4 linked regions of the Homo sapiens genome follow. The protein of the gene in region 1 interacts with the protein of each later gene in a pairwise test. Each region holds a gene or a part of one and is shown in the gene's direction. Other genes may lie near its edges. The genes, in order: SKAP1, EEIG1, PRAM1 and BLCAP.

Region 1 (7,030 bases):
GACTGAGAAGTGCTCAGGGAATTTGAGCAATGCAGAGGTTACAGGAGACCATGGAGAGAGAGCCTAAGTAGAGGACGGCAACCAAGCCTGATGAGAGCGGCTTCAACAGTGAACAGGAAGGAAGTTGGAGCAGTGAGTGAGTAAACTTTCCCAACAAGTGTGGCATAGACTAGAAGAAATGGGAAGTAGACATCAGTGGCAGCTATTTAATGGTTGTTTTAAAAAATGAGAGAAACTTGAACACCTTTCAGTGCTGGTGGAAGGAGCCATTTACTTTACAGGCAATGGTCAGTCTCCACAGAACCTCATCTCTCGGAAAGGAAGGAGGAGGGTTGCAAGTGCGTGTTGTGAGGGGTAGTCTTAAACCAGGGGAGGGGTGCTTCCCCGACTTTAATGGGAAAGAAAGATGGTTGTCAATACAGGTAAGTTCCTGCTTTGGTGGCTGGTGGCTGACAAATCTGATGGCTTCTCTTTTCCCTTTGAAGGTGGAGAAGAGGTTGTCAGAAGCAACATGAGTTTGAGGAGGGGAGATATTAGATATCATAATTCTATGATAATTATATGCATCCAGAGATAAAAAGATCACCAGATAATGCTAGGGACTCTGAATTTTACATATCACCAATCTGGTTTTACTTCTTTTGTTTTGTTTTTCCTAATAGTACTCAGCAACCAAGTGTACAAAGAAGCAGTTAGCTCTTTGGTACCCCAAATCCAATTGAACTGGAATATGTGATATTTCCCATACTTAAAATTTCATTCGGGGCCAGGCACGGTGGCTCATACCTGTAATCCCAGTACTTTGGGAGGCTGCGGCGGGTGGATGACGAGGTCAGGAGCTCAAGACCAGCCTGGCCAACATGGTGAAACCCCGTCTCTACTAAAAATACAAAAAATTAGCTGGGCGTGGTGGTGCACACCTGTAGTCCCAGCTACTCAGGAGGCTGAAGCAGAAGAATCGCTTGAACCCAGGAGGCAGAAGTTGCAGTGAGCTGAGATCTCACCACTGCACTCCAGACCGGGCAAAAGAGCGAGACTCCATCTCAAAAAAAAAAAAATTTATTTTGGCCAGGCACAGTGGCTCACACCTGTAATCCCAGCACTCTGAGAGGCCGAGGTGAGCAGATCACGAAGTCGGGAATTCGAGACCACCCTGGCCAACAGGGTGAAACACCGTCTTTACTAAAAATACAAAAATTAGCTGGGCGCAAGCCTGTAGTCCCAGCTACTCAGGAGGCTGAGGCAGGAAAATCATTTGAACCCAGGTGGTGGAGGTTGCAGTGACCCAAGATTGTGCCACTGCATTCCAGCCTGGGCAACAGAGTGAGACTCTGTCTCAAAAAAAAAAAATTTTTTTTTCATTCTAATTTTACTTCTTTCAAAAGAAAGAAAACATTTTCTGGTGCTATCAGAAATAGCCCCATACTCAGAGTGGGCACAGTGGCTCACGCCTGTAATCCCAGCACTTAGCAAGGCCGAGGCTGGTGGATCACTTGAGGTCAGGAGTTTGAGACCAGCCTGGCCAACATGATGAAACCCCATCTCTACCAACAATATAAAAAATTAGCCAGTTGTGGCCAGGCGCAGTGGCTCACGCTTGTAATCCCAGCACTTTGGGAGGCTGAGGCGGGTGGATCATCTGGGGTCAGAAGTTCAAGACCATCAAGGCCAACATGGTGAAACCCCATCTCTACTAAAAATAGAAAAATTAGCCGGGCGTGGTGGTGCGCGCCTGTAATCCCAGCTAATCGGGAGGCTGAGGCAGGAGAATCGCTTGAACCTGGGAGGTGGAGGTTGCAGTGAGCCGAGATTGCGCCACTGCACTCCAGCCTGGGAGACAGAGCCAGACTCTGTCTAAAAAAAAAAAAAAAAAATAGCCGGGTGTGATGGCACGCACCTGTAATCCCAGCTACTCAGGAGGTTGAGACAGGAGAATTGCTTGAACGTGGGAGCCGGAGGTTGCAGTGAGCTGAGATCTTGCCACTGCACTCCAGCCTGGGCGACAGTGCGAGACTCCGTCTCAAAAAAAAAAAAAGAAATAGCCCCATACTCTTCAACATCTGCTGTGCTTTTGAGAAGCTTTTCTGTATTCAAGGAGCTGCATCCTCACTCTGTGACTACCCCTTAAACTCTCTTTAAAACCCTCTCATCCTCTTTCTTGTTTGTTCCTCTCTGTGACTAGCCTGTCATTATTAATGTACCTGTCACCTCTCACCTGTTCTAGGGAAAGAATCTAATGTTTAGAGCATCTACTATGTATCAAACACTTTCAGTTGTTTTTACTTCAGTGATACAATTTACATCCCCACAAGATAGAAGGGAGATATTATCCCTACTCTCACAAAGAAGCTAAAGCTAGGAGAACCTAAGGTCATGTGACTACTAAATGACCAAGCGAGGATTAGATCTCAGTCTGTCTGACTCCAAAGCCCATTACTCTGCTGTAAGCTCCCAAGGAGCAAGCAATCTTCTGATTCATCATTACATACCTCATGGGAACTCAAACAGCACTTTGCACATAGAAGATGCTTGATAAATATTATTGATTTGAACTATGACTTGACCCCTTGAATATCTGTAGTGTTCTGGCAATTTAATGTGTGCCCAACTTTCTCTAAGAAGCCATACCATTCGGCTTGGTTTAAAAAAAAATGCTCTTCAGGTTCAGCAAGGGCATCAAATGTGCTAATTTTACAATGTAGACAGGAAGATGGCAAAAGGAAAGTGCTTGCTCTCTTCCTCTAGATGATTTTTTTAAATTTAATAATCCCATCAGGGAAGTTAACAGTTCACAGTGATAATGGCAACAATGAAACCACCAAACAGAATCTCCCATGCAATCACTAGAATAAATGAGCAGAAGCATGAACAAATTCTAACTGACGCTATCCTCTTTTCACTTTTCAGGAGTATAACATGTATGGCTGGTGGGTGGGAGAACTGAACAGCCTCGTTGGGATTGTTCCAAAGGAGTATCTCACCACTGCCTTTGAAGTGGAAGAAAGATGAAACCCAGGTATCAGAACCATGGCCAATGAACTGCCTAATAGTTGAGTGGAACTTGTGGGCCACTACTTTGTTTCTCTGAAAGATGAGAGTTGCCAGTGAAGTAGCTTTTCTTCATTTCTCATACTAATGCTAGTGATTCACCACTGATGGAAAGAAAATGCCTCTGGAATTGTTTTTTTCTTAAATTTGGGGACAGTGTCACTTAGGATAAGGTTCAACTAATAGCAACATAAAATCTAAACTAAAAATGACTTAATTAACACAGAAAGCCAGGCACAGTGGCTCACACCTGTAATCCCAGCACTTTAGGAGGCCGAGGTGGGCAGATCACCTGAGGTCAGGAGTTCGAGACCAGCTTTACCAACATAGTGAAACCTCATCTCTACTAAATATACAAAAAAAAAAAATTAGTCAGGTGTGGTGGTGGGCGCCTGTAATCCCAGCTACTGGGGAGAATCGCTTGAACCCGGGAAGCGGAGGTTGCAGTGAGCCGAGATCACACCACTGGACTCCAGCCTGGGCAACAGAGTGAGACTCCGTCTCAAAAAAAAAAAAAAAAATTAACACAGAAATGTATTTTTCTCTTCTGCAAAAATCTAGAGGTAAGTGGTCCAAGGTATCCAGTCCCAGGTACCTTTTCTTTTTGTTCTTCTCTGTGTGCCCAACATTCTCAAGGTTACCTCAAGGCCAAGACAGATGCTCAATCTCCAGCCATCCTGTCTGCAACCTACACAGCACAGCAGGAAAGATAAAAGGAGAAGGTCAGGCCGGGCGCAGGGGCTCACGCCTGTAATCCCAGCACTTTGGGAGTCCGAGGCGGGCGGATCATGAGGTCAGGAGTTCAAGACCAGCCTGGCCAACATGGTGAAATCCCATCTCTATTAAAAATACAAAAAATTAGCCAGGCATGGTGGTGTGCACCTATAATCCTAGCTACTCAGGAGGCTGAGGCAGGAGAATCGCTTGAACCCGGGAGGCATAGGTTGCAGTGAGCCAAGATCACGCCATTGCACTCCAGCCTGGGCAACAGAGCAAGACTGTCTTGAGAAAAAAAAAAAAGAGAGAGAAAAGCATACCCTCTTCCTTTAAGGGTACTTCACAGATGTTGCGCACACACTTCCTTTCACATTCCATTGGTCAGAAGTTGGAATATATGGACACAGCAAGCTGTAAAGAAAGCTTATAGCCCTGTGTCCAGCTTAGAATTGGGAGATTCATGATTAAATACAAAGGGAAGAATGGATATTGGGATAAAACTAGCAATTTTTGCCACAGGGATGGATCTAGGTTTATCCCCAGCTCTCAAACCCAGGGCACCATTTCCCCAAAATCCCCACATATTGCAATATGACTGACCAAGATTAGGAATCCAATATGAGGATTCCTTATATTGGAACATATGAAATATTGGAACTATGGAACATAATCAAATTAACTTTTAAGTAATAGAGAATATGGTTTGCAGGGCCAGGCACAGTGGCTCACACCTGTAATCCCAACACTTCAGGAGGCCAAGGCAGGAGGATCACTTGAGATCAGGAGTTTGAGACCAGCCTGGGCAGAAGGTCTCTACAAAATTTTTTTTAAAAAATTAGCCACGTGTGGTGGTGCACGTCTGTAGGCCCAGCTACTTGGGAGGCTAAGGTGGGAGGAATGCTTGAGCCCAGGAGGTTGAGATTACAGTGAGCCATGACTGCACCACTGCACGCCAGCCTGGGTGAAAGAGCAAGATCCTGTCTCAAAAAAAGAAAAAGAATAGGTTTGTGTTGTATTAGCAAGAACCACATTGTGTTTCAAAATAGTGGGGGTGGGTGCCTGGTTTGGGTGGAGTAATAGTGGGAGCCACTTTGGTGCAGAGTGGGTTTTGGTTAGAATTAAGATTCTGATGGAGGGCCCCCAAGACCAGCATGTTGTCACTAGCTCCATCTTCTGGCCTGAAATAGGAGCAGTCTTCACTGCTGGGGGTAAAGAATGGCATCAGTGTGACAGTGATACAAACATTCCTTGGAGTCCAGACCAGAGCCCACTCTAGTGTGCTGCAGCAGCTGAGTGAACTCATTTAGGAAAATACATAAGGATAGATCTTATTCTCCAATGCCCTTGTACAACCATACAACACCAGCTCAGGCCTGTCACTCAAGGTTTGACTTTATGATTTTCCTGATGAAGACTGTTTCATGGCCACAAGTATAGAGGGTTGGAATTTTTCTGTCAAATCTAAACAAATCCAGCCAGCCGGGCATGGTGGCTTACACCTGTAGTCCCAGCACTTTCAAGGCCAAGGCAGGTGGATCACTTGAGGTCAGGAGTTCGGGACCGGCCTCACCAACATGGTGAAACCCCATCTCTACTAAAAATACAAAAATTAGCCAGGCATGGTGGCGGGCACCTGTAATCCCAGCTACTTGGGAAGCTGAGGCAGGAGAATCACTTGAACCTGGGAGGCGGAGGTTGCAGTGAGCCGAGATCGCGCCATTGTACTCTAGCCTGGGTGACAGAGACTCCATCTCAAAAAAAATAAATAAAAATAAAAAACAAATTCACCCTTTTCACTCTGTCATTTATTTGTTTATCTCTTCATTGTCTTTGGCCCAACAAATCTATTTCTAAGAATTTATCTGGCCAGGCGCAGTGGCTCACGCCTGTAATCCCAGCACTTTGGGAGGCCAAGGGGAGCAGATAACGAGGTCAGGAGTTCGAGACCAGCCTGACCAACATGGTGGAACCTCATCTCTACTAAAAATACAAAAATTAGCCAGGCGTGGTGGCGGGCGCCTGTAACCCGGCTACTCAGGAGGCTGAGGCAGGAGAATTGCTTGAATCCACGAGGCGGAGGTTGCAGTGAGCTGAGATCAAGCCACTGTACTCCAGCCTGGGCAACAGAGCAAGACTCCATCTAAAAAAAAGAATTTATCCTATTGACCATTTTTGGTTTGGGTAAAAAAAGAAAAAAAAATAGAAATTATCCTACAGCTATACTTGCACATATGCAAAATGACAGGCACATACGGTTCATTGTAATAGCAAACACTTGGAAATGACCTAAATGTTTAACAGAGAACTAGTCAAATAACTATAGTACATTCATAGAAGTGAATATTATGCAACAGTAAAAAAGAAAGGGAAACTGTGTGGAATACATTCTGAAATATGTTGGTAAGTTTAAAAAAAATAAAACAGCAAAGAATGGGAGCCAAATTTGCCCCATTTGTATAAAAAAGGACTGGAGACTATATATACCTATTTGTTTATATTTGTATGGGATATTTCTGGAGGGAGACATGAAATGATAACATGGTTGCCTCCAAGGACAGAGAAACTGTGAGACAGGGTAAGGGGGAAAACATTATACTCTGTGCCCTTTAATACATCTATATTTTGAATCACAAAAGCAAATTTATGTATTTTTCCTCCTTTAGGAAATATATTCTTCCCTCTCTCCTGCCTTTATGAGGAAACTGATCATCAAAAGTTCCCACTCCCTACTTCTGCCACCCCACCAACGCCTTGGACTCCTCTCTTTGCTGAAGAGACCCAAGTCTCTTGACACCTCAGAGTGACTGTAAGCTACCAGTAAGACAAGTGGGAAGAGGCACGTTCATCAAACCTGTTACTAAACCAGCCTAGTCATAGCTCATCCCCATCTCTAAATGTGTCCACACAACCACATCTGCCTTTTCCACAAGCTTTTCACAAAGAAGGTGAGAGAGAAGGAAACCTTGGGAGGAGGACATTACTGGTTGTTCTGGCTGGTTTGAAAAGCACAAATAAACTTGGGATGTGGTTCCTTGCCATGTGTGATGATGTTGAGCTCCTTTTTGTAAGATGATATCAATATGTCAGCTCTGGGCATTTTTACCACCTCCCAATAAAGTGGAGATAGCATGAGAGAAAACAAAAGCCCAGAGAAAAAAGGAGACTTGGAATTGTCTTTCAGAGCAGAATCTTCTCTGGAATCCACGTCTATTGTTTATTTTTTGTCTTTTTTTTTTTTTCTGAGACAGAGTCTTGCTCTGTTGCC
Region 2 (7,000 bases), on another chromosome or scaffold:
GTAATCCAGCACTTTGGGATGCCATGGCAGATGGATCACTTGAGGCCAGGAGTTCGAGACCAGCCTGGCCAAAATGGCAAAACCTCATCTTTACTAAAAACACAAAAATTAGCCAGGTGTTGTGGTACATGCCTGTAATCCCAGCTACTTAGGAGTCTGAGGCACGAGAATCACTTGAACCCAGCAGGTGGAGGTTGCAGTGAGCCGAGATCGTGCCACTGCACTCCAGCCTGGGCCATAGAGTGAGACTCTGTCTCAAATAATAATAATAATAATAATGGCCGGGTGTGGTGGCTCACGCCTGTAATCCCAGCACTTTGGGAGGCCAAGGGGGGCAGATCACCTGAGGTCAGGAGTTCAAGACCAGCCCGGCCAACACAGTGAAACCCCGTCTCTACCAAAAATAGAAAAATTAGTCGAGCTTGGTGGTGGGCACCTGTAATCCCAGCTACTCAGGAGGCTGAGGCAGGAGAATTGCTTGAACCCGGGAGGCAGAGGTTGCAGTGAGCTGAGTTTATGCCCTTGCACTCCAGCCTGGGCAACGAGAGCGAAACTCCATCTCAAAAAAATAAATAAATAAAACAAAATAGTTTTTTAGTGGATTCCTTAAGTGTTTTCTGTATAAAAGATCAAGTCATCTGTTAATATAGTTTTAGTTCTTCCTTTCCACTACTAGGTATTTTTCTTATTTATTTGGTCTTCTTCTTTCTCCTCCCACCAGAATGTAAGCTGGTTACTGCTGTGGTTCGAGTGCCTAGAACAGGGCCTGGCACACACTGGTGCTCAGTTGTTTGATGATGAATGAATGAATAAGTGGAGCCAGCATGACTAGGCTCAAGTGATGCCCCCAGCCTAGGGCCCCCACTCCTGTGGCACCTGCCTATAGGGATTAGATCTGTCCCTTCCTCCCGTCTTCAGCCCTGACCTTTCTGCTTGTCCCCAGTCTTGGTTGCAGAGGGTTGTTGGAGCTCACCCTCCTAACAAGCTAGGTGCATTCTGGTGACATCACAGAGCCTTCACCGGGCCAGGCACTTTGCAGGATTCATTTCACTCAGTGCTCCCACAACAGCAGCCACGACAGGGGCGGTGTGCCCCAGTGAGTGTGCAGGGTGTGGCCCAGGTCTGCCTGCCCTCTTGACCCTTGTCACCGCCTTGGCAGGAGCACAGGGTAAGCCTTGGTCACATCCTCAAAGCCTTGTGGAGCCTGGAGGGGGCTCCTCATAGAAAGTGAGGCTTAGGGGCTTTCATTGGCTAAGGAAACGGGACTCCCTCATTCATGCTGTTTCCTCTCTTTGGAACTGTCTCCTCCACCTGGCTACTCCCCAGGCTCATTCTATCCTGAGCTTGAATGTCACCTTCCCTGATTCATCTGTTCCCCCGCCCTCTCCTGGTGACAATGAGTCATCACTGGGTAAATACAGTCTGCAGTGGCTCATCCCAGCACCTGCTTGGCACTCAGAGACCTGGGCGGTGCCTTGGGGCAGAGCAGGGTACTACAGGCCCCACAACACCACAGGTTCTCCTCGCCAGGCTTTCCCGGGCTCCTGAGCCAAAGTGGCGACTGAGAGCCCTGACTCTGAAGTCATACAGTCCTGGGTTTAAATCCTGCTTTGCCAATCACTGGGGATATGAGCTCGAGTGGCGGGTAGGGTGGCCTTCTTTTGGAGCTTCAGTGCCCTCAGCAGTAGAAGGGGTGGCATAGAGCCCACCTTGCAAGACTGCCATGCAAAGCAAACCTGGCGATGCTCAGGGGAGGCTTGGCTGCGGCCCTCTCCGACCCTCTGCCCTGAGGCCTCGATCTGGCAGTTAACCCACTCTCCTCGGGTCACTTCCTTAGCTGTCCCCTTGGCGGTTGTGCTTAGGTGGGATGAGCTGGAGATAACGTCTCTCACACTGTCTCCTCCCTTCCCTGGCCACCCCTTCCTGAGCACGGGCTCTGCCAGGCAGGCTGTATGGAGATGGGGAGCTGCTCGGGGATGCAGAGCTCGGTTCTGCCACGTGCCGCTGCCACCCCCAGATCCTGCCAAGGCCCCCGCAGCAGTTGGGAGGGGCTTGGATGAGCTGCTGCCACTGGCTCCCACTCACTCCCAGGGCACAAAGCATCTCTCCAGTAGAGGGGTGCTGAATTTTTCAGCATGGTCATGCTCTCCAACTCAGGAGGAACCGGGGGGCTAGAAGACCAGAGCCCTCTGCTTAGTGTTGGTGAAGCTGAAGCCCCCAGGTCGCTGTCTCCGCACCCAGAGTCCAACTGCTTGGGTTAATCCCCATTCTGCTCTTACCTGTGGTGGGCCTCAGGTGAGGGTCTTAGCCTCCGGGCCCCCAGTTTCTTTGACTGGGGATTGAGCTGATGATGTGGCTGCTCCATACAGAGGTTGGAAAGGTTTGGCATGACCACCTTTCTCTGGCACTTGGAGCAGGCTCCAGGGCCTGCTGGCTCTTGTGAAGTTCTTTGAACAGTGCCTGGCACATGGGAATCACTGTGTGGGTATCAGCTGTTGTTACTATTGTCATTGTTGTTATTAGTGATGAAGAAGGCAGCTCTGGAGTCAGGAGGAACCAGGCTTCAGGCCCAGCTCAGCTATCTACTGGCTGGGAGGTGTGGGGCAGCTTGCCTAGCCTCGGTCTCTTCATCTTTGAAATGGGCTGAGTAGTCCAGCCTAAGACTATTGTGAGGGTCATGAGGCGGTTGGCAGAGCCTGGCTTTGGAGGAGGTAATGGCAGTGCAGGGAACTGCCCAAGGTCTCAGAGCAAGGTGGCGGGAGCAGCACTGGGTACAGAGGGAGGCTCTGCAGGTTGCCAGGCTTCCTGGGGAGGGACAGCTGCCCTAGCTCACCTCACCCCTGCCTTGTGTTTGTCTCATTTTTATTACGTTTTCACTGTTGTTTTTACAACAACTACACGAGTACATTCTTGTGGTGAAAACACAGCTATTTTGTGACACAGAGTGAAAGTGGAGCTTCCCACCGCCTCAGTCCCAATGGGGAGTGCCATGTCCCTGGTACCACATGGAGTCCCCTGGCGCGGATGTGTGTGCCTGTGCTCACCTGTCGCCTCTGGCCCACAGGGAGGAGGTACAGGAGAACTGTGTGCGGTGGCGAAAGAGGTTCACCTTCGTGTGTAAGATGAGTGCTAACCCGGCCACCGGCCTGCTGGACCCCTGTGTCTTCCGTGTGTCTGTGCGCAAGGTGAGGCCAAGGGCGCATGTGGGGCTGCTGGGCTGGGCTATAGGCCCCTCCCCTCATGAGTCCGCACCCCCAGCTGAAAATGGGGTGAGTTGCTCTGCCCGTTGCCCTCCTCCCCTCAGATCTGGGGGGATTGTGGGAGATGCATGAGGTCCCTGGGATTCTGCAGTCAACTTGCTGCTTGTGTCTCCCTCCCTGTGCAGGAGCTGAAAGGCGGGAAGGCTTATTCCAAGGTAAGAGGGGCTGTGTGAAGGGGCAGTGGGATGGAATGGGGGGTGGCATGGGACAGGCACAAGGGAAGCCTCCAGCCCCTTTTCTGCCACAAGCAAGAGGCACTCAGCCCTACCTGAGATGTGTTATTTTTTAGAAATATCTTTATTGATGGTCTTTGCACTCAATATAAAGGCAGCATATGGTTGTTGCAATATAAATGGTACAGAAGTCCACAGAGCAAAAGGGCCAGTTTCTGTCCCCTTTCCTCTCTCCAGGCCTCTTTCTGGGACCCCATTATTGGATAGATTAAGACCTTTCCAGACCTTGTAAGAAGAAAAAAAGGAAATATACCATACAAAGAGAGCAGCAAATAAAATGTATGCGTGTGGTTTAAAGAAATGCAAAATGAGCACCCTCTGTGTGTACTGAAGTGCATGCAAACAATATGATTTTTTTTTTCCTCTGGAGACAGAGTCTTGCTCTGTTGCCCAGGCTGGAGTGCAATGGCACAATCTTCGCTCACTGCAACCTTCTCCTCCTAGGTTCAAACAATTCTCCTCCCTCAGCCTCCCGAGTACGGCTGGGCATGGTGGCTCACGCCTATAATCCTGGCACTTTGGGAGACTGAGGCAAGCGAATTGCCTGAGCTCAGGAGTTCAAGACCAGCTTTGGCAATACGACAAAACCCCGTCTCTACTACAGATACAAAAAAAATTAACCAGGTGTGGTGGTGCATGCCTGTAATCCCAGCTACTCGGGAGGCTGGGGCACAAGAATTGCTTGCACCCGGGAGGGTGGAGGTTACAGAGAGCCGAGATTGCGCCACTGCACTCCAGCCTGGGTGACAGAGCGAGACTCTGCCTCCAGATAAATAAATAAATAAACAGATTTGCAGCTTGGTTTTTTACTTAATCCATTCTGGGCATCTTTTTGTGTTATCACAAATTTCCATGTGCTTTCTAATGGCAGCAGTGTCCCGTGGCATGGCTGGCGATGGTTGACTCAGCCAGCCCTGCTGCTGGACATGTGCATTGTTACCAGGGTTTCACTGTACCCACAGACAGTTCAGCCCTACATAGTATTAAGAGCTTTTCTACTGGGCAAAGAGGGAGAAGACAGCTCTGGCTTTGAATAAGCCTGCTCTGCCTTCCATCCCTCTTCTCCATGGTGGACTCTTGGCCTCCCCTCCTCAGCTCCTGAGGCTTAGCCCAGTGGCAGGAGGGTGGGCTTCATCAGCCGGGAGGGGAAATGCCTTCGCCTCACCTCTCACCCGAGGGAGGCGCTATACAGGGCGTGGCCCTTCCCACTGACCAGAGCTCAGGAACTCAGCCGGCTGGGCAGTGCACTCTGCCCTGGCCCGGGGCGCTGACGTCCCTCTCCAGAAGCAGAGGACAGTATGGCTAGAACCAGGCTGTGGAGGGTGCTGTCACAGTGGAAATTTCTCTGATTCACACGGGTGAGGACAGCTGTGCAGCCAGGAAAGGAATTACCAGCAAACACCTGGGAGCATCTCACCTCCACTGGCAAACATTTACCAGGCACCCAGCACATGGCAGGCACTGCCAGGCCCCTTCCCTTCTGTTCTGTAATTGAACTCCCACTGCAGGCTTTACTCCCATTATACAGAGGAGGAAACTGAGGCCCTGAGAAGTGGCTGGACGTGGTGCTGATCAGGCCTAGTTTCAGTCCTGTCTCTGTTGGGTTAGCTGTTTGGCCCTGGGCAAGCTTCTTCCCCTCCCTGAACTTAGTTTTCTTTTCTTTTCTTTTTTTTTTTTTTTTTGAGATGGAGTCTCGCTGTCGCCCAGGCTGGAGTGCAGTGGCGCGATCTCGGCTCACTACAAGCTCCGCCTCCCGGGTTCACGCCATTCTCCTGCCTCAGCCTCCTGAGTAGCTGGGACTACAGGTGCCCGCCACCTCGCCCGGCTAATTTTTTTTGTATTTTTAGTAGAGACGGGGTTTCACCGTGTTCGCCAGGATGGTCTCGATCTCCTGACCTCGTGATCCGCCTGCCTTGGCCTCCCAAAGTGCTGGGATTACAGGCGTGCCACCGCGCCCGGCCTCTGTGAACTTAGTTTTCTCATCTATAAAATGGGGATCACTCTGAGTCCATGGCGGGGCTAGGATCTGAATCCAATTCCCTGATTCTGGAGTGTGTGCCCTGAACACTGCAGTAGAGACTTGCAGGCAGCAGTTACTTGACACTCATCCCTGATTGGTTCGGTTGGGTTCAAACATTGGTTCAAACATTTCATTATCTATCTCTTCTGAGCCTGTTGTATCTGGAGCAGAGCTGGGCAGGAGGTGGTAAGCAGAGGCTCTGGGGCCTCCTAGACCCTTTGCAGAGGGAACCGGAGATGTCTTCCAAGTCCCCAAGTCTGGCACCACCTCGTCTCAATCTCACTTTCCCCTCCAGGTCTAGCAGACTTGGCCTCCATCCACAGGGCCTTCTTAGCGCATGCCCTCTTCGCACTTACTCCCACTTCCCTCCCCATCCCTCGATCCTCTGTCCAGAGGTCCCAAGGGCCTGTTCAGACCCTGAACTCTGCCCAGCAGCCCCTCACTCTGTCCTCTACCAGGGCGCCTTCCCTGGGGCTCCTGCTCATCCTGCAGTGCCCCTCCCCTCCCAACCCCTGTGGGGGTGTCCCATCACTTTCCCCAGCACCCACTTCCCACAGGCCTTCCCTCCTCCCCTGCCTGCTGACCCGGCAGCTCCCGACAGCACGGCCTTGTTTCCCAGGGAACAATGCATCTGTGTCACGGACAACAATGTCCTTTCATGTCAGGCGCACTGGCCCCGGTGCACGCCGGGACGTGGCACAAAGGGTGCTTTGTGCAGCTCAGGGATGTGAGTTCCTGGCTTTGCCATGTTGGTGCTGCCGACCCGGGGCCTCTGTCCTTGGGTCCCAGTTATGCAACAGTCAGTCGAGGCTGTGGGGCTGGCCCAGGGGCTTTATCTGTCTCCCTCTCCAACTTTTGCCAAGTTACCCTTCTGGGCTTCCGCCAGCCAGGAGCCCACACTCCCTCAGCCCTCCCACACGCTCCTCTCACCTCCTAGCTGGGCTTCGCTGACTTGAACCTGGCCGAGTTTGCGGGCTCGGGCTCCACGGTGCGCTGCTGCCTGCTCGAGGGATATGACACGAAGAACACTCGCCAGGACAACTCCATCCTTAAGGTACCAGGGATCCTGCCACCTCTGCCACCCTGACCACGGGATGGGGACAAACCAGGCTGCTCATCAGAATCCTCTGGAGGAGGGTTGTTAAAAATACAGGCCTTACCTGAATAGGTAGACATCGGGAAGGGGCGAGCCCTGGAATCAGGAAACCACTATCAGAGGGAGGCCTGGCTCCGCTGTTGGCCTCAGTTTCCCCATCAAGTTCAGAGAGGGGGCCCTGACAGTCTCCAGGGTTTGGCAAGCACCTGCAGTGGGTTCACGTCATGCTGATTGCATGCCCTCTCTTCTCTTGTGGTCCCCTGACAGCAGCCCCACGAGCTGTGGTATCTTTGATTAGTCCCAGCTTCAAATGGGAGGGAGTTAAGGCACAGACGTTAAGTCATTTGCCTGAAGTCACAGACAGAGCTGGCACCTGACCACCAGCCAGTTG
Region 3 (7,030 bases), on another chromosome or scaffold:
ACCCCAAGAAGGCCCCGCTGCCTGAGTTTGGTGCAGTGTCCTTGAAGCCCCCGCCGCCTGAGGTCACTGACCTCCCCAAGAAGCCCCCGCCGCCTGAGGTCACTGACCTCCCCAAGAAGCCCCCGCCGCCTGAGGTCACTGACCTCCCCAAGAAGCCCCCGCCGCCTGAGGTCACTGACCTCCCCAAGAAGCCGTCCAAACTGGAGTTGAGTGACCTCTCCAAGAAGTTCCCACAGCTGGGGGCCACTCCGTTTCCAAGGAAGCCCCTGCAGCCTGAGGTCGGTGAGGCCCCTTTGAAGGCCTCGCTGCCGGAGCCTGGTGCGCCGGCCCGGAAACCCCTGCAGCCCGACGAACTCAGTCACCCCGCCAGACCCCCCTCCGAACCCAAATCCGGCGCATTCCCCAGGAAGCTCTGGCAACCCGAGGCCGGTGAGGCTACCCCGAGGTCCCCGCAGCCTGAGTTGAGTACCTTTCCCAAGAAGCCTGCGCAGCCTGAGTTCAACGTGTACCCCAAAAAGCCTCCGCAGCCTCAGGTCGGTGGCCTCCCTAAGAAGTCCGTGCCGCAGCCTGAGTTCAGCGAGGCCGCTCAGACTCCCCTCTGGAAGCCTCAGTCCAGCGAGCCGAAGCGCGACTCCAGCGCCTTTCCCAAAAAGGCCTCCCAGCCTCCGCTGAGTGACTTTCCCAAGAAGCCTCCGCAGCCTGAGCTTGGGGACCTCACCAGGACCTCCTCAGAGCCCGAAGTCAGCGTGCTTCCCAAGAGGCCGCGGCCGGCCGAATTCAAAGCGCTCTCCAAGAAGCCCCCGCAGCCCGAGCTGGGCGGCCTCCCCAGGACCTCCTCAGAGCCCGAGTTCAACTCACTCCCCAGGAAGCTGCTGCAGCCGGAGCGCCGGGGGCCACCCCGCAAGTTCTCACAGCCTGAGCCCAGCGCTGTCCTCAAGAGACACCCGCAGCCTGAGTTCTTCGGTGATCTCCCTCGAAAGCCTCCACTCCCCAGCTCCGCTTCCGAGAGCTCACTGCCTGCGGCCGTGGCCGGCTTCAGCTCCCGGCACCCGCTCAGCCCTGGGTTTGGAGCGGCTGGGACACCCCGCTGGAGGTCAGGAGGCCTGGTTCACAGTGGAGGGGCCAGGCCAGGCCTCAGACCCAGCCATCCACCCCGGCGGAGGCCTCTGCCCCCTGCCAGCAGCCTGGGACACCCTCCAGCCAAGCCCCCGCTGCCCCCGGGGCCCGTGGATATGCAGAGCTTTCGGAGACCCTCTGCAGCATCCATAGGTGGGTGAGGGCGGGCGGCACCGGCAGGAGCGGGGGCTGAGGTCCCAGGCAGTGCCGGCTTCCCTGCCCTACTCTCTACCCCACAGATCTACGGAGGACCCGCTCGGCCGCTGGGCTCCACTTCCAGGACCGACAGCCTGAAGACATCCCGCAGTGAGTGTGGGGAGGAAGCGGAGGTGGGTGCGGATTGTGGGGCTCAAAGAGGCCTCATCTCGGCCTGGAGCTCCCAGAACTTCGGGAGGCTGAAGTGGGCGGATCTCCTGAAGTCAGGAGTTCGACAACAGCCTGGCCAACGTGGTGAAACCCCGTCTACTAAAAATACAAAAATTAGCCCGGTGTGGTGGGGGGCACCTGTAATCCCAGCTACTTGGGAGGCTGAGGCAGGAGAATCGCTTGAACCCGGGAGGTGGAGGCTGCAGTGAGCCCGAGATCATGCCCCTGCACCACTCCAGCCTGGGCAACAGAGAAAAACTCCGTCTCAAAAAAAAAAAAAAAAAAAAAAAAAGAAGAGGCCTCATCTCAGGTATCCCCGCAGGGTCCCAGATGAGATCTACGAGCTGTATGACGATGTGGAACCCAGAGATGACTCCAGCCCCAGCCCCAAGGGCAGAGGTTTGTTGGTGGCCTGCCCGAGTCCCTGCAAAACATTCGGGGCAAGGCCATTTTCTGCCATGCTCCTGGTGTAAGAGCAAGTAACATTTTAGGACCTGCTGGCTCCTGCTGGGTGGAACTACATAAGGGGAGCCCAGAGGCGAAGGACCAGTGAGAAGGCTGTTGTAGGCAGAGGTGTGGCCCAGGTTGGCAGCAGGAGATGTGGGAGCAGTGGGTGAATTCAGTAATCAAAAGCAGGCATCAGGCCGGGTGCAGTGGCTCATGCCTGTAATCCCAGAGCTTTGGGAGCCCGAGGCAGGAGGATCGTTTGAGCCAATCCCAGGGCTTTGTGAGGCCAAGACAGGAGGATCCCGTAAGCCCAAGATTCCAGACCAGTCTGGGCCACAGAGCGAGACCTCATCTCTACAAAAAAACTTAAAAATCAGCCAGGTGTGACAAGCATCTGTAGTCCCAGCTATTTGGGATGCTGAGACAAGAGGATTGCTTGAGTCCAGGAGGTCGAGACTGCAGACTGCAGTGAGGCTGTGACTCCACCACTGTACTCCAGCCTGGGCAGCAAACACCCTGTCTCAAAAAAAAAAAAAAAAAAAGCAGGATTTGGTGGTATATAAAGCAGGGAAGTTTCAAGCCTAGCACCCAAGGGCATGACAGAGCCGCCCCTGGGTTGACGACAAGATGTTAGGTTCCATTCATTCATCCATCCATCCATCCATCCATTCATTTATTTATTTATTTTTTGAGATGGAGTCTCGCTCTGTCACCCAGGCTGTAGTGCAGTGGAGCAATCTCAGCTCACTGCAAGCTCCGCCTCCCGGGTTCATGCCATTCTCCTGCCTCAGCCTCCCCAGTAGCTGGGACTACAGGCACCCACCACCGCGCCCAGCTAATTTTTTTGTATTTTTAGTAGAGATGGGGTTTCACCGTGGTCTCGATCTCCTGACCTCGTGATCCACCTGCCTTGGCCTCCCAAAGTGCTGGGATTACAGGCGTGAGCCACCACGCCTGACCCTTATTTATTTATGTATTCGTTTTTTTGTTTGAGATGGAGGCTCGCTCTGTTGCCCAGACTGGAGTGCAGTGCCGTGATCTTGGCTAACTGCAACCTCTGCCTTCCGTGTTCAAGCGATTCTCCTGTCCCACCCTCTGGAGTAGCTGGGATTACAGGCACGTGCCACCAAGCCCAGCTACTTTTTGTATTTTTAGTAGATATGGGGTTTCACCATGTTGGCTAGGCTGGTCTCAAGCTCCTGACCTCAAACGATCCACCCACCTTAGCCTCCACAAGTGCTGGGATTACAGTCATGAGCCACCGCGCCCGGCCTTATATTTTTATTTTTTATTTTTTTGGAGACACAGTCTCGCTCTGTTATCGCCCAGGCTGGAGTGTAGTGGTGCCATCTCAGCTCACTGCAACCTCTGCCTCTTGGATTCAAGCGATTCTCCTGCCTCAGCCTCCCAAGTAGCTGGGATTACAGGCGCCCACCACCATGCCTAGTTAATTTTTGTATTTTTAGTAGAGCTGGGGTTTCACTACATTGGCCAGGCTGGCCTTGAACTCCTGACCTCGTGATCCGCCCACCTCAGCCTACCAAAGTGCTGAGATTTCAGGCGTGAGCCACCACGCCCAGCCTGATTTACTTAGACCTGTTGTGTTCAAGGTAGCTGAGGGGATGTCCAGGCAGAACTTGGGCCTGAAACTCAGGGGGAGGTGTGGCCTGCAGGCAGGTGTGGCAGTGGCAGGGGAGGGAGGCTGCCAAAGGTTTCTTAGAAGTTTGTGCTGGGTGAATAGGGAGCAGGCCCGCACCTCCTGCCCAGCTCCACAGTTAATGCCTTCATGAAAACACAAGCAGCTTCCAGGCAAGCACCTTGCCTGCCTGTCCCTAAATCTGTACCCTCCACTCCCTGCATGTCCCTAAATCTGTCCTTAAATCCGTACCCTCCACTCCAAAGTTAATGCCTTCATGAAAACACAAGCAGCTTCCAGGGAAGCACCTTGCCTGCCTGTCCCTAAATCTGTACGCTCCACTCCCTGCATGTCCCTAAATCTGTCCTTAAATCCGTCCTTAAATCCGTACCCTCCACTCCAAAGTTAATGCCTTCATGAAAACACAAGCAGCTTCCAGGCAAGCACCTTGCCTGCCTGTCCCTAAATCCGTACCCTCCACTCCCAAATCCCCACAGGGCAGTAAGGCAATGCACCCCCATTTTACAGATGCACAAGGCTGGCCCGGCGTGGCAGCTCACACCTGTCATCCCAGCAGTTTGGGAGGTCCGGTGGGCGGATCACTTGAGGTCAGGAGTTCCAGACCAGCCTGGCCCGCATGGCAAAAACCCATCTCTACTAAAAATAAAAAAACTAGCTGGGGCCGGGCGTGGTGGCTCACGCCTGTAATCCCAGCACTTTGGGAGGCCGAGGCGGGTGGATCACCTGAGGTCAGGAGTTCGAGACCAGCCTGAACAACATGGAGAAACCCCATCTCTACTAAAAATACAAAAATTCGCCAGGTGTGGTGGTGCGTGCCTGTAGTCCCAGCTACTAGAGAAGCTGAGGCAGGAGAATCGCGTGAACCTGGGAAGGAAGGGTTGCAGTGAGCCAAGATCACGCCATTGGACTCCAGCTTGGGCGACAGAGTGAGACTCAATCTCAAAAAAAAAAATGAGTCGGGCATGGTGGCATGCACCTGTCATCCCAGCTATTCGGAAGGCTGAGGTGGGAGAATTCCTTGAACCCGGGAGGTGGAGGTTGCAGTGAGCTGACATCGCGCCGCTGCACTCCAGCCTGGGTGACAGAGTGAGACTCTGTGTCTGTCTCAGTTGAAAAAAAAAAAAAAGGCCAGGCGCAGTGGCTCACGCCTGTAATCCCAGCACTTTGGGAGGCCAAGGCGGGTGGATTGCCTGATGTCAAGAGTTCAAGACCAGCCTGGCCAACATAGTGAAAACCTGTCTCTACTAAAAATACAAAAAATTAGCTGGGTGTGGTAGCAGGCGCCTGTAATCCCAGCTACTTGGGAGGCTGAGGCAGGAGAATCGCTTGAACCTGGGAGGCAGGGGTTGCAGTAAGCTGAGATCCTGCCATTGCACTCCAGCCTGGGTGACAGAGTGAGACTCCATCTCAAAAAAAAAAAAAGAAAAAAAAATAGGTACGCAAGGTTGAGGCTCTGGGATGGGGCTTGCCCTGGCTTGCACAGCTGGTCCACGAGCTGGATCTGTGGCAGGGCTTTCAGCGGGGGCCAGAGCTTGAGCTTCTAAGGTGCTCCTGCTCTCGCTGACAGCCTCAGAGGGCCTGGGGCAGAGAGGCCCCCTCTGCTTCTCCTGGGCTTTCTCCCTGAGCTTCTTGCAACACCTCCCTGTGAGCACACAGCTTCCTGGTGGGGCCCCTTCTGCTTCCGCTCTAGGGGAGGCTCTGTGGCTTGGGTCTGGGGGCCACCGTTGGGGATGCGGATGGCCAGGAGTGGGGCTGCTGAGCGCCTGGGCTAGTGACAGCCTGCCTCCAACCACTCCCAGAAGCCCTGCTGGAATCCCCCACCTCTTCCGAGGCTAGGAGCATCTGCCTCTCCTCAAACTTCATACAGTCCCCACCCTTGGCCCATTGTTCCTGTCACCAAATAACCTTCTCCCCCTTCCTTGCCAGTCATTTGAGGTTCTGATAGGAAAAAAGAAAAAAGGGGCCGGGCGCGGTGGCTCATGCCTAAAATCCCAGTTCTTTGGGAGGTGGAGGCAGGCGGATCAGTTGAGGTTGGGAGTTCGAGACCAGCCTGGCCAACATGGTGAAACCCCGTCTCTACTAAAAATACAAAAATTAGTTGGACATGGTGTTGCACACCTGTAGTCCCAGCTTCTGGGGAGGCTGAGGTGGGAGGATCGCTTGAATCCAGGAGATGGAGGCTGCAATGAGCCGAGATTGCACCTCTGCACTCCAGCCTGGGCAACAGAACGAGACCCTGTCTCAAGAAAAAAAGAAAAAAAAAAAGGTCCCACTTCCCTGGATCTCCCGCTTCTCAGGAGTGGCGTGGGCTTCTCACTGTGGGTGCAGCTTCTCAAAGGCAGCTTAGGTCTCTTGGGGCCAGGACTCTGGACTCCCCTTTCCCACTGTCTGCCTTACTTGGAGCAGTGGCAGCTCCACTGCAGAGGTTCCTGGAAGGCAGGGGGCTCCTCTGCAGGTGGGGAGAGCCCAGCCTTTCCCAGGGATCTGAGCTGGCCATGCGGGGAAGGCGGGCAGAGGCCTGCTCTGGGTCAGCTGTGGATGAACCAGGGCTGCCTGCATGGCGGTGCCAAGAGGTGCTCTAATGTGGCGGGTTTGCAGGGACCCTGGAGTGCCAAGGTCAGGTTCGCTCCTGGTGGAGTGACTGCTCACGGCCAGGGAAGCCTCTGAGAGGCAGGAGCAGCTGGAGGGGCTGTGTGTTCCAGGTGAGACTGTGGATGGCCATGCCTGGTATCTGGCGGGCACGATTCAGGTGCTGCTCCTTGGGCTGCTTGGAGGGACTACAGGCCTGAAATGTCCGGCGGGATACTTTGAGCCATTCGGAAAGGACATGCTGGGGCTCTGGGTTCTGGATCTTTCACTCACCAGGGTTCCTGGGGCTCCCACCTGAAGCCAATTCCTTGGCCAGCAGGGCTCTGACTTGGGAGCCTGGTCATTTGCCAGGAAGTGGCACAGGGAGACTGGCACCATGGGAGACCCCTCAGTCCAGAGTCTCATCATCAGTCACCAGTCCAGGACGCTTACCCTAGCAGCATCTTTTAAAAATTATTTTTATTTACTATTTTGAGACAGGGTCCTGGTCTGTCGCCCAGGCTGGAGTGCAGCGGCGCCATCTTGACTCACTGCAACCTCCAGCTCCCAGGTTCCGGCGATTCTCCTGCCTCAGCCTCCTGAGTAGCTGGCATTATGGGCGCCCACCACCACACCCGTCTAATTTTTGTATTTTTAGTAGAGACAGGGTTTCACCATGTTGGCCAGGCTGCTGTCAAACTCCTGACCTCAAGTGATCTGCCCGACTTGGCCTCCCAAAGTGCTGGGATGACAGGCATGAGCCACCATGCCTGGCCATGATATTTTACTGTCAACTATCATTGCCCTCCTGTGCAATGGAACACCCAATTTCTTCTTCCTAACTGTAACTTTGTACCCATGGGCCAGCCTCTCCTC
Region 4 (7,030 bases), on another chromosome or scaffold:
GAAGGGTACAAGGTGACATGTCCAGGTTCCCTAGGCTGATTGATGGCAAAGTCAAGACCAGAACCGGGATCTGCACCTCCCCACCCCTATAATTCTCTGATACCGAATGAAGTTTTAGATGCCTTTAGAGGTGCTGGTGATTGGGCTAAGAAACTTAAGGGCTTGCTTAGGGGAGGGAAACATGATCAGGCTTAAGGGGGCAAGGTACTTTGTGCTTCAGAAGTATTTGTGACAGCTGTGACTAAGGGATTCGAAGAAGTGGCAGGAAGAGAGATTTATGGCCCTCCAACTCCCTCCCTTGGTGTTGACCCAGCAACAGGTGTGTAGTGACAGGGACACATAAAGCCAGAGACAAGGCTGAACAGGCGGCAGGGCCATTTGGTGAGACAGTCAGCTGACCCCGTGTAGAAAGAGCCCTGACTCACTGGGGAGTGGGAGAGGAAGACAAGTCCGAGGCCGAGCACTGCCCACCCTGACGTGATGGCAGGGGAGAGCCCAGGGCCACGGACCTGGTAAGCATTCCTAAGAATACGGAGGCTGGTGCTGGGAAAAGCAGAAACCCAGTATTGGGGAGAGAGGTTTCTGGGGTGAGGTGGGGCCAGGAGACCCTGCAGAGTAGCAAGGCCAGGCAGATTGTCTTTGTAGTGGTCCTGGTGGATGTGGGGCCTGCAGCATTAAGCTGGGTGAAGAAGGCGCCACGCTGCACCTCTTATCCCATACTCATTGTCTAAGCCACTGTCCACCCTGCCCACTACTCATTTCTTTGGGGCTCCTGGATGGAGACCTGAAGTAAGGCTTTGTGTTCTGAAATCACCCCCTTGGTCCCTAGTACCTCTTTGGAGGGCTACTCCCACCTTTTTCCCCTCCTCTCATCTTTCCCAAAGTGATACTTGCTTTGGCCCCTTATCCTAAGACCACAAGTAAAGCACCTATCCCTTTGGGGAGGGGGAAGTGGTCCCTTATTCCAGGACCACAAGTGAAGATGTCAGCCTTTCTCTTTGGGGAGAGGGGGAGATGGTCCTTTATCACAGGACAGCATTGAGATGGGGTTGGGTGTGTGAGGGGCCCAGCTTATTGCAATTTTGATGGCCCTCCTTTTCCTCCCTCCCCCAAGCAGTGTGCCTGTTCCACAGTGGGCACATCAGCTGAGTCTTAGAAGTGTATGTTGATGCCGCTAAAGAAATCACAAGAGACAAAGTTTTGGTGCGCCTCTACTGCACCGCAGGGTCCTGGGACACTGTGCGAGACAGGGGAGGTACTTTTTTTATTTTTTGTAGAGGTGGTCCCTGTCCTCCAGGAGCTTACAATCTAGCTGGGGAGACACAACTAATGCACACTTAAACAATCAGTACAATTAGCGATTACCACAATATTGACCACAACTGCATGAGACCAGGGAAAAGCAAGATCAGTGAGGGGCAAGGGGGGTTCAGAGAAAGTGTTTTAGTAAAGGTGGGATTCATTTACTTTTACTGCTTGAATAGTTCCAAATCAAGTGACACATTATTTTGGAGTAGGGTGGGCTTGGGAGGCAGTGAGGAGGAAAGGGGAATCGAGAGAGCAAATGCAGCGAGGCTGGAATGCAAGTGCCCTGGGCAAGGGACAGCGAGAGGGCCCCACTGTATTTCTTAACCACCCTCCTTCCTCAACTGTGCCCTCCAGTCCCGCCACACAGGCACGCGGTTGGTGCTGCACCAAGATTCAGGGCGTCGGCTGGCGATGTCAGAATGTCCATTCTGCTGGCTGGTGCGGTGTTTTGATTTCCATGGTGGGGCCTGCTGGCATGGCCCTGGCTTCGGGGCTGGGATGGTGCTGTCCCGACTTTGTCCAGATCAGAATGCGGTGCCTATGCCCAGATCTCAGGGGTCTGCTCCCCCTATCCCCCCTCCTCTCTCGACCCTGCCCCTTAGTGGGACCGGTGCAAAGGGGTTGGGAAGGGATCTGGTATCTTCGTCATTGTCGGTACTGCTTCTCCGGGGGTCTACTGGCCCCTCACTGACCTTGCCAAGTGCTCCTCTGGCGAGGGAACACAGGGGACCCCACATTCCTGCGCGGCACTGGCTCCCGTGCTGGCCGAGATGCACAGGAGCACCTGATGATACGGCCGCCCAGGGCTGGGAGCTGGGGCCTCAGTTGGGGGCTCGCTGCCTGCGCTCCCCCAACACCTGCCGCCCGGTCCGCGACACCGTGTATGCCAGCTTCTGCAGGGAGTACCTGAACACCTGCGACGAGAAACCCAGGACCCACCCTTAGTGGAGAGCACCCACAGCATGTCTGTGGTGCTGCCGTGCCCACCCCCGCCCCACCCCCTGCCCCGCCCGCCCATCCAGCGTAGGCTGGAGAGGCGGGCGCGGGCGCAGCTTGTCCACGAGTCAGGGCAGCTGGAGCTTTTCCAACTGTGCTGAGAGCTGCATGGCGGCAAGCTGATTGGACCCACAACTTAGGTATACCTCACTTCTCGCAATGGGCTGTGTCCCTGGAGGATTTCGAAAAGCGAATCCTACCCAGTAAATGCAGCATTCCAGGAACACCTTGAAGGAAATATGCGATTCCTTTGGCAAAGGATTCCTTTAGCAGGGAATTCTTCCTGCAAAGGGAGCTTTTAGGGTAAATGATTTTATGGGCAAAGCGCTTTCTTCTGATTTATCTCTTTTTACACCAAGCGCTTTTGCCTCTTTTTTATTTTTTTTATTATTATTTTTTTTTTTGTAAAGCAATTGTCCTTTTTTGGAAGTGCTTTTTTTCCCCTTCTATTTTTCTCTCGAGGGGCTTTTTCCTCTAATTTTTTTCTTTAAAGCGTTTTTGCCCGATCCATTTTTTTCCGTTAGCTCCCTTGTCTAATTTTTTTCTGCAGTGCGTTTTTAATCTAATGCATTTTTTTCTGCCAAGTGCTTTTCTCCGATTTATTTTTCCTGCAATGCGCGTTTTTCTGTTTTCCTGTGAACTACTTTTTCTCTAATTCGTTGTAGGGTTTTTTTTTTTTGCGAAGTAATTTTTATTTTTTCTGAGAAGTGCCTTTTTCTAACTTATTTTTTGTTCCACCCCCGCAAGCGCTATATGTTTTTTTAAATAAAATTTCTCCGCAATGCGCAATTTTTTAAGGTGGAAAATTTTCACTCTGCGAGCTGTAAAGTCTTTCAACACAGTAGTGCCCCGCCTCCCTCCTGGGGTCGAGTCCGGGTGTAGCGGGTTTTTCTTACCGCGTAGGTCGCTAAATGCCTGGGTGATCGTCCGCAGCGGTCGCCCGCCGCGCCCCGAGTCTTTGTTCCCTGGCAGGCGCGGGCGCACTAGGGAGGGTCAGCGCGAGGAGGACGGCGCAGGGAATGGGCAGGGGGCGCGCGGTGCCGGCAGCGGCACTTGGGCAGGCAAGGATCGCGGCAATCGGAATAGGACGGGTCCGGGAAGCGGCAATCGCGACGCAGTCTTGCGGGTTCTAGGGGCGCGAGTTGGGAACCCTCTCCCACCCGAAACCCCGTCAGACTTACCTGCAGCAGCACGCGGAAGATGTACCAGCCGATGATGAGCAGTTCAGCCGAGGCCGCCGCCACTGCCGCCATGGTTCCAAGAATGGTAGGTGGGTGGTCGAGAAAGAGGGTTTGCCGAGATCCGCTGGTCTCGGAGTCCGCTGTTGGGCGCACTGCCGCAGCCGCGGTGGCCGCGCCTTAAGTACCCGCCCGCCACCTAAGTGCGCATGCGCGCCTTGGGGGGTGTTTATGAGGAGGGGTGGCTGGGGGCGCTCCTCATTCGCCAGGAGAGGAAAAAAATAATCCATCTGCTCTTTCCATACCGACCCCCGCCTCCTGAGTTCCATCTTAGCCCCCTTCCAGAAGATTCCGCCGTGCTTGCTTTTGGATTTTGCTTTAAAATGGAGGGGTACCACGACTCTGGGTAGAGTACAGGGCGAGAATGGGGGTGCAGGTCTCTTAGTGTGGCGCCCTTCTCCCCAGTCCCTGGCCTGCAAATTTGAGCTCAGTCTCCGGTGCCACTCCAAAGCCTACCTTGGGGATGGATGGAAAACCGAAATTAGGGAGGGGTCATCTGCCCCATAGAGCAAAAAACGTGGTGCCCCTTTCAGAAGCTTTGGCATAATAGGCCCGTGCTCGGCGCTCTTTTCCTGATACTGAATGAGTTTTAAGCCCAGGTCCTCTGCTTCATGAGGGTGCCTGAGCGCGTAACCCGTCTGATTCTTTACATCTCTCTTACGGTAGCGAGGAGATGAGAATCTGCGGTGGAGGTCGCTACTGTAGGGAGCTGAGCCAGAGCACTGCGCTTTGGGCGCAAAAGCAGTAGTCACCCGGTATCTGTAGGAGGGATACAGGAAGGATTGGCGCCCTTCGTATGCACGGAAGGAATGAGCTCTACGGAGAAGTGGTTGGAATATGCTTGGGGATAGTTTTCTGCTGGACAGGTCGTTTCGACCTCAGTCTTCCGCTCCCCTCCCCCAAGCCCTGGTAGGTCGGCCTTAGCCAGTGGGGTTCTTTGTACCCGTTGCGCTGTGCGGCTGGATCACCGAACGGGGTTACGCTACCGCTACCGGAGGGTTGTGGCTACCGCAGCCCCGTTTCCAAGTGAGGCGGGTCCCTTTTAGACCGCCAGTCTTGTGGGTCCCTCGCACAGCGCGGATTTTCGGGCGGGAAGACCGGAATGCGGTTTGTGAGTGTGGTCCCCGCGCACCGGTAGCCAGCCGAAAGCACCTCTTTCCAGCAAGCTGCCTGGCCCAGGGACCAACTGGCATTTGCCCCTATGTGGATAGAAAATTAATTTTCATTAAAAGCTCCCAGAGGTCAGGTTCTATACAGTGCCAGCAGCAGATGGAGGTGTAATGATCCAAACGAGTTCAGTTTGGACAAAGTAGCATAGTGACTTTTTTTCTACATTGACTTTCGGAGAAGTTGGCAGATTCTGGCAAAGTGACGCTGGGCTGTTTGAAAAAGGCAAGCTTAGCCTAGGCTGCCATCTTAAAATATTTCGAGGCTGTAGCTGCCTCAGGATCCTTTGCCTGTGGTCTGGTGGCCGGCAGTGCCCCGCTAACAGCTTTAACTCTGCACTTAGTGCCTGAGCACCTATGGCTGTGAGAGATGCTAGATACAGAACCCTGTCCTTACCACGTGGGGGCACAGCAGGGAGCCCTTGGTCGTCCTTTGGCAACCACTGGGCGGTATTGTGAGGTCTGGGCCCCTTGAGGACGGGCTGCAGCCCCAGGAGGCGATACATGATCTCTGCTGGGCAGGGCCCAGGCAAAGCCAGCCCACTGTGTGAAACCGTGCCAAAGAGCCCTCTCCCCGATCCCCCAGGAGAAGCCCCGGGGAGACATCCCAGGAAGCTTCCCGAATTAGTGACTTGGAGAGGAGTAGAACTTTCACGGGTGGGCAGGGAGGAAAGGGCATTTCACATTTGCTGTTGTTAACCATGATCCATTTTCCCAAATAAGTATACATTCTGTTCCTGTTTTTTTTTTTTTTTTCTTTTTTTTTTTTTTTTTTTGTCTGTCTGTCTGTTCTTTGTCTGTTTGTCTGTTGTGTTGACTTTTCTCTTCAGGATCCCTGCTGCCTTGGTGATCCCGGGCTGACAGCCAGAGAGCACAGCGGCTCAGCTCCTGGAGAGTGAGGGTTGAAGAAAGCGGAGGGCAGCCGCCTGCGCCCGCTGGCTCCCATTAGGTCGGTTCCTGCAGCGGTGCCCGGCAGCCTTGGTGAAGGCCCTGCCCGGCAGAGATCATGTATTGCCTCCAGTGGCTGCTGCCCGTCCTCCTCATCCCCAAGCCCCTCAACCCCGCCCTGTGGTTCAGCCACTCCATGTTCATGGGCTTCTACCTGCTCAGCTTCCTCCTGGAACGGAAGCCTTGCACAATTTGTGCCTTGGTTTTCCTGGCAGCCCTGTTCCTTATCTGCTATAGCTGCTGGGGAAACTGTTTCCTGTACCACTGCTCCGATTCCCCGCTTCCAGAATCGGCGCATGATCCCGGCGTTGTGGGCACCTAACGGCCTGCCCTGTTAGCTTTCCAAGGAAGCAGAAGACGGGAGGGGAGGCATTGACATAGGTCATAAAGCATTGGAGTTTCAAATCCCGCAGCCTCGCGGGTGTCACATTCCTGACGGCGCCTTTTTGGCCTGTGATGTTTTATCCTTACAATGTGAATAATGGCACTGACCGGTGCTTTTATTGTAAAGTCCTATAGTCGTGGGTGGTCTTGTGGTTGTGTGTGTTCTGTCCCCATCTAGGTCCTGGCTGGCCGCATGACCACCCCTCTCGCCTCATTACTGTGAGGAGTCTGGGTCCATCCTGGTCAGCTGCCCCAATGTGACCTGGGGCAGATAAAATGCCAGTCTCATTGTCACCTCTGTGACCCCTCCTTGTCAGGGTCTCCTTCCTTCCCAGAATGTTACTGACTCCTCAGTCCCTCTTCTGGTTTCCCTTTATTTCTCTTCTACCCTTTTCCTTTTTTGGGGAGTACCTGTCCAAGACAGGGCTCATTTTTGCACTTATCTCGAATTTGAAGAGATTGCTGACGCCCGAGAGCCTCGCTTTTTCATCCTTCTTTCCTTGTTCAGCAGGCTAGACAGAAACATGTCTTGACTGTTAGTTGTCCACAAATCTTCAGTATTTTCTCCACTTCATTTTTAAGAAAGGAAGCAACAGATAGATGTTGCTCTTTCACCTGGGTGTCTGGGCTCAAGCTTTCCCGCCCAGCCTCACTTCCTTTGCCCTTCCTCCTGCCTTTCTCAACTGTCCCAAGGAGGGGGCCTCATTGTGTCTCCCGTGCATGCTCTGCAGCATTGAAGTATGGTGTGTTCACGTAGTTCTAGCAGTCCCCAGCTGAGTGAGTGGGAGAGTACCTGTGTGTTTCGTAACGGCCTTGATCCCCTTGATAGATGTTTGGATATTTTTTGGTGTGCCCTGTGTGTGTGTGTGTACAAATACATGTGTATATTCCTTTTAAAGAAGCTTTATCGAACGTGGTCTGATTTTGAGGTTTAGCAATAGCTAGCTATATATGGTAGGTGCCGCTACAGTTTTTATTTAGCATGGGGAT

The links.
Region 2: the proteins of SKAP1 (region 1) and EEIG1 interact in binary tests that used the Homo sapiens proteins (3 or more experiments, as listed by UniProt).
Region 3: the proteins of SKAP1 (region 1) and PRAM1 interact in binary tests that used the Homo sapiens proteins (3 or more experiments, as listed by UniProt).
Region 4: the proteins of SKAP1 (region 1) and BLCAP interact in binary tests that used the Homo sapiens proteins (3 or more experiments, as listed by UniProt).

The regions. Positions count from the first base shown.
Region 1 is NC_000017.11:48,133,215-48,140,244, reverse strand, and holds the end of SKAP1 (src kinase-associated phosphoprotein 1), read left to right. Parts: intron 1-2,907; coding exon 2,908-3,009; 3' UTR 3,010-3,016; intron 3,017-6,428; 3' UTR 6,429-6,803; downstream 6,804-7,030. UniProt on the Homo sapiens protein: Positively regulates T-cell receptor signaling by enhancing the MAP kinase pathway. Required for optimal conjugation between T-cells and antigen-presenting cells by promoting the clustering of integrin ITGAL on the surface of T-cells.
Region 2 is NC_000009.12:127,949,990-127,956,989, reverse strand, and holds part of EEIG1 (early estrogen-induced gene 1 protein), read left to right. Parts: intron 1-3,064; coding exon 3,065-3,185; intron 3,186-3,385; coding exon 3,386-3,415; intron 3,416-6,300; exon of another isoform or gene 6,301-6,450; coding exon 6,451-6,567; intron 6,568-7,000. UniProt on the Homo sapiens protein: Key component of TNFSF11/RANKL- and TNF-induced osteoclastogenesis pathways, thereby mediates bone resorption in pathological bone loss conditions.
Region 3 is NC_000019.10:8,492,615-8,499,644, reverse strand, and holds part of PRAM1 (PML-RARA-regulated adapter molecule 1), read left to right. Parts: coding exon 1-1,269; intron 1,270-1,355; coding exon 1,356-1,422; intron 1,423-1,804; coding exon 1,805-1,881; intron 1,882-7,030. UniProt on the Homo sapiens protein: May be involved in myeloid differentiation. May be involved in integrin signaling in neutrophils. Binds to PtdIns(4)P.
Region 4 is NC_000020.11:37,517,859-37,524,888, reverse strand, and holds part of BLCAP (apoptosis inducing factor BLCAP), read left to right. Parts: intron 1-435; exon of another isoform or gene 436-512; intron 513-1,198; exon of another isoform or gene 1,199-1,992; coding exon of another isoform or gene 1,993-2,222; intron 2,223-2,450; coding exon of another isoform or gene 2,451-2,531; intron 2,532-3,437; exon of another isoform or gene 3,438-3,485; coding exon of another isoform or gene 3,486-3,557; exon of another isoform or gene 3,558-3,639; intron 3,640-4,299; exon of another isoform or gene 4,300-4,451; intron 4,452-4,585; exon of another isoform or gene 4,586-4,653; intron 4,654-5,538; 5' UTR 5,539-5,714; coding exon 5,715-5,978; 3' UTR 5,979-7,030. Other genes in the region: NNAT (neuronatin), read right to left, coding at 1,993-2,222, 2,456-2,531, 3,486-3,557. UniProt on the Homo sapiens protein: Acts as a tumor suppressor; induces growth arrest at G(1)/S checkpoint and apoptosis via RB1-dependent and p53/TP53- and NF-kappa-B-independent mechanisms. Modulates expression of genes involved in the regulation of proliferation, cell cycle and apoptosis.